Linked DNA regions of Homo sapiens: region 1 is linked to region 2. The links come from fine-mapping of genetic effects on gene expression. Tissue or cell type: subcutaneous fat. Region 2 holds a variant in brackets; the other region holds the start of a gene. All regions are shown on one strand. Distances are from middle to middle.

Region 1 (2,686 bases), 170 kb after region 2:
ACAGGGGCGCGCCACCACGCCCGGCTAATTCTTGTATTTTTTTAGTAGAGATGGGGTTTCACCATATTGGCCAGGGTGGTCTTGAACTCCTGACCTCGTGATCCACCCGCCTCGGCCTCCCAAAGTGCTGGGGTTACAGGCGTGAGCCACCGTGCCCAGCAAGTGATTCTCTTTCACAAAACCCTATTTAATTTTCTGCATAGCAGTTCTAGGTAAAGTTTTTCTTTATTATTTATTGTATATCTCCTCCAAAGAGAATGTTAGTTCCACGTGAGGAGTAACCTTGTCTGCCTTATTTACTACTGATGATCACACATTTTGAACAGTGTCAAGCACATGGTAGGTCTGCAATAAATACTATTGTTAAATAAATGAAATAACTAGTACAAAATAAGAGCTGTAGGAATGAAGTGGAAGATAATTAGAAGAGGCATAATGCAAGAAGTGGCCATCTAAGTCCTCCATAGTTCAAGAGATAGAAATGAGGCAGAGACCTCACAAGTAATGTACAAACAAAACATGCAATGTGTGCAAGAAAAACAAGCAGTCCAGATACAGAGCAGTGGGGATGGGAATGCAGGGAGACTACAGTGCTGGAAAATGTAGCTGAGTTAGTACCAGATTATGGAAGATGTTGAATGCCCTGACAAGGACTTAGAATCTATTGGGTGGTCAATGGATGGCTACTGTTAGTGTTTGAGTAGAAAAGTGACACAATTCCAAAACATGCTTTTGGAATTGTAAGATGATTCTGATGGAAATGAGCAAGATGTATCCGATGGAGTAACAGTTAGAGGAGTTCAAAAACAAAACAGCATGGTCAAGAACATAGCTGTAGGGATTGGCCCTGAAAGAATAATGATCTTTTCTTTCTCCCAGAAAAAAGGAGGAAGACAGACATTCTAAGCAAGTGAAACAGGTAGGGAAACTTGGGGAGAATGTAATTCCAGCATCCTGGTAGAAGAGTGGAACTGACCTGGAGGACAGCAAAGGAGCCCACGTGGCGTTAAGCCTGAAGGTGCAGTATTCCCATTCAACAGAGACTGCTGCTGACAGTGGGCGGGGGAGTAGTTTGCTTGGCCCGTGGTTGAGGAATTCGTTGGCGGAGGAGGGATCCTGAGAAGGTACTAGAAATACTGAACCCAGTCCTGCAGAAGCTACTTAACTTCACAGAAAACTAGGGCGTCGTTGCCCTCCAGCACGTCCAAAGGTGTCCCCGACAAGGCCAGCAGCTCTACCTGTTTCTTCTCCCTCCTCTTACTCTGCCTGTCCAAAGGCACGACACTAGTCCACGTCACCTTTCTTTGGGCGCAAAGGGTATGGATCCTCAATGCCAACCTCGTCACCCCCCCCCCCCACACACACACACACACACACACATACAAGCCCACCATCGCGCAAGAAACTCGACCCCGTCTACCTCGGTTCAGTGGAAGGCATTCATTTGCACAACGCTGTGCGCATGCCCGGAAGCCTTAAGTGTTTCAGCCTCCGACAGGGGCGTAATTAAAGGGGCAGGCGCCCACGTAAAGACGCGCCCTACGCAATACGTGGAGTTTCTCACTTTGTGGAGCCGCCTGGAGGCGCCAAGATGAAGCCCATCGGGGAAGTGGGGCGGGGCCAACCCGGCAGGCCCCGCCCCTTCGCGGCGCTTCCTAGTTCGGCTGGTTCTTCTGTCGCCGGCTTCAGCAGCCCGCGCCCGGGCAGGTAAGGCATTCCCCGCCTTAATGCCTCGGTCAAACGTCGTCCGAGGTCCGCTTCCAGGCCTCGGCACCTCTGCCCCAGGGTTGCTGGGGTCGGCTGCGGAACGGAAATCTCTTTATCATCCGTGAGAAAAGTTAGAGAGGAAGTGGGTTCCTTTGACAGAGCTTACTCCAGAAGAAAGACTTGGGTAGGTCCCCGGTAATCAAGAAGTTCGTCGGCCCTGAGGAAGAGCCTGAGGCTTGGAGGGACGTCACCCAGCTGTTCTGGGGCGCAGTCGGACCTCAAGTTTCTCACCTCTCAGGCCCTGGATTCCGTGAACCCGACTGCGAAATGAAGTCTCTTTTCCCCAGAACCAGGAAGTCAGGCCAGCACCTGACAGATGCCTGTGGCGCCAGCAGCTCGCTGAGCCTCCACACGATTGTAATTCGCTTGTTTCTCCGGCCTCCAAGCTTCCAGGGAATTAGAAAGTGGAGGCGGCTTATGGGATCAGATGAGTACATTCGCAGATGGGGGAAAAAAGTGTACCTGTCAGCTTGGAAGCCAGAGGGAGACAAAGGGATAAAAGCAAACCCTGTCCAGGTGCGGTGGCTCATGCTTGTAATCCCAGCACTTTGGGAGGCCCAGGCGGGCGGATCGCTTGAGGTCAGGAGTTCGAGACCAGCCTGGCCAACATGGTGAAACCCCTGTCTCTACTAAGATACAAAATTTAGCTGGCATAGTGGCGGGCGCCCGTAATGCCAGCTACTCCGGGGGCTGAGGCAGGAGAATCGCTTGAACCCAGGAGGCAGAGGTTGCAGTGAGCCGAGATCGTGCCACTACACTCCAGCCTGGGCAACAGAGGGAGACTCCGTCTCAAAAGAAAAAAAAAAAAAAAAAAGCAAACCCTGAGAAAGCGAGAAAGCACTTTGAGCATTTAGAATGGGAACAAACGGCGCTATTAGTGCTTCAAAAACGTAACTGCCCAAGGCCCCTGGTAAGCAGA
Region 2 (2,686 bases):
CATCAGTGCTATGGTAAGAACTCCAGCAGAAGGCATTATTCTCTCTTTTCTTTGAAAGGACAAGACAGAAGAAACAGTGGACAACAAGACTATTTCAGAGCACACATTAAATGTCACCAGCCACCCAGGCTTCTGTATTTGGATAAAAATTTGAGGGATCTAGAGCTTCCCACAGAGGGAGGGAGATTTGGGAAACAGAGGGAGAGACAGAAACTATTTTTTATTAATAGGCTATTTTGTAGTACAGTTTAGATTTACGGAAAAATCGAACAGATAGTAAAGAGTTTCCACATGCCCACCCCCTGTGGTTTCCCCTGTTATTAACATCTTATATTCATATGCTAGATTTATTACAACTAATAAACCAATATTGATACATGAGTATTAACTGATGTTCATAGTTTAGTCATATTTTCTTAGTTTTCTTAGGATCCCATTTTCTTAAGATTCCATCCAGGATACGACATGACAACTGGTTGTCATATCTCCTTAGGCCCCTCTTAGTGGTAATGTTTTCTCGGACTTTCTTTGTTTCCGATGACTTTGATAGTTGTGAGGAGTACTGGCAAGATATATTGCAGAACCCTCCTCTCTTTAAATCTACCTGATGTTTTCCCCATGATGGGTTTGGGGTTATAAGTTTTGGGAGGGGAAGTACTATTTTGATATTGATGTTGTGTCCCCTTATTACCTCCACACTGCTTTGACCTGAGAAATATAGTGTATTTCATTTGTATTTTGAAAGGATCACTATTGTAGCAAAAATATGAAGGGCCAAGAAACTAAGCAATATGACCAACTTGAAAACTATTGCAACAATTCAGACATAAAGAGGATACGGGCTGAGGCAACGGTGGTGTAAAAAGAATGGATGAGGTAGATAAAATATACGTTAAGAACGTAGAAATCACAGAATTCTACAACCAATTGTATTGGTTGTAGGTGTATGAATGGGGAAATCTGTAAAAGTGACTGAGAAGAAATGGTTGAAAATGTGAAAGAAGAACCAGAAAGAGCAGTGTGCCAGAGCCGAAGGAAAAGAAAGTCTCAGGAATGCTGTAGTAATTCAAACAAATGAGGGCCAAGCAACCTTTGGACTTGGAAATTAATATGATTATTAGTGAGCATTATTGGGAAGGGCTGGGAAGTGAATTCGATGTAAGGAAATAGAAATAGTGCGCATTAATATTTCTAATCATTCAAATTATAAAGGAAAGGAGAATGATGAGGGTCATAGCTAGAGATATACAGAATTGAGGACTTTTAATGATATAAGAGACAGGAGC[G/A]AATAAAGAAAGATTGAAAATATGGCAAAATGAAAAACTGGTCTTAGAGAAGATGAAAATGTGGAATCATTAATGATAATAATAGTTACGCCCACTGAATATCTATCTAACTGTTTCAGGTCCTGGGGTAGGGCTTTAATGCATAAATGACATTAACCTTAACACTCCAGGGAGGTAGGTGTGTGATTATTCCTATTTTATGGACAAAGAACTAAGACATAAAGGACTGTGAGTCAAGATTTGAACCTAAGCAGCTTAACTCCACATGGTTATTCATTGCTTTACATTGCTTCTCCAAAGCCTGGGTGGCAGCCTGAAACAGCAGAAGAGACATCTGTGAGATGAAGGAAAATTAATGAATGTGGGTGGCACATGGTGGTTGCATAATAAATATTTGTAGGATGAATGGAAGAATAACAGAGTATAGATAAAGATATGTAGCTATAGGGCCAGAAGTCAATAGAGGTCACAATTTATAGTGCTGATTACATCACCATCGATGAATGTGTACCATGTTATGCACGAACAGTATAGCACTTTTTATTATGTTACAATTCTGTGTTTCACCTCTGTCTCCTTATTTATCTGAATCCCACTCCCTCAGCTATGAGATTGGTTGGGGCTAACTTATCTGGCCTGGTTCCTTAGGCCAGAACTGGAAAAGACCAGGAAATGTCAGAAGCAAGGAGAAAACAAAGCTCAATGAAAACGTGAAATCCAATGAGCTGAAAATCAAAGATCCCCAAATAGATGGAAGGAGCAGAAGCAGGTTTGGAATTCAAGAGTCTGAAGACCAGAATTTGAAATCCTGGGAGTCAAGAGCCAGGAGAGGGCTGGAAAAAAATGATCTTAACAGATGTCACCTTCTGAGTTTTATTTTTATCTGTCAGTCACGGTGATGAATAGCCAAACTGGCTACTTTAAAAGGTTGCAAGGGGCCAGATACCTCCAGGTAGCAAACATCCTGGGGGAATGGGCTATGTCTTTTTTTTTTTAAACCTGTGATTATGTCCCTAGTATCTGACACAGTGCCTGGCATAGAGAATGTGTTAAAAAAATAAAAAAGACTGAATAGAATGGACTAATCATCTATGGGTTTGAGTTAAATATTTTGGGGGAGTGATTAATAACTATTTTGAGTTATAAGATATCTGAATTTGAACTTGATGATCTGAACTTGATAATGCAAATTTAAGCTACAACGTCACTTGAATTTGCATCTTACAGAACATCCCTGGCTTATCATTGGATGTTGTTGACACATGTAATCTGTAATCCTACTTAAGGTTATAAATAATTACCTTTCAAAGGGAGCAATAAATAGAACCATGATTCATAAATTTATTAATCCTTCTTTCTAATTGCAGACAGCTGCAGTGTTCCAAAACATTTTTACCAAA

Direction of the effects. Alleles are on the strand shown, and positions count from the first base shown. SD is a standard deviation of normalised expression in the study named.
In carriers of allele G in region 2, the expression in subcutaneous fat of the gene that starts at base 1,642 in region 1 tends to be higher than with A alone (large effect, 0.78 SD a copy in FUSION).

The links. PIP is the estimated chance that this variant, and not a neighbour inherited with it, causes the effect.
Region 1: IRAK4 starts here. The variant in region 2 is fine-mapped to the expression of IRAK4 in subcutaneous fat (FUSION, PIP 0.95).

Annotation. Positions count from the first base shown.
Region 1 is chr12:43,757,310-43,759,995 of GRCh38, forward strand. IRAK4 (interleukin 1 receptor associated kinase 4) reads left to right here and starts at 1,642. Exons shown (of 12, transcript NM_016123.4): 1 at 1,642-1,707. PUS7L (pseudouridine synthase 7 like) reads right to left here and starts at 1,481. Exons shown (of 9, transcript NM_031292.5): 1 at 1,421-1,481. RefSeq lists enhancers at 1,169-1,218, 1,559-1,668, 2,289-2,348.
Region 2 is chr12:43,587,165-43,589,850 of GRCh38, forward strand. No RefSeq gene overlaps it. Among named protein-coding and RNA genes, the nearest start is that of ADAMTS20, 36 kb to the left of the region's middle. The variant G/A (reference allele first, on the strand shown) is at 1,287.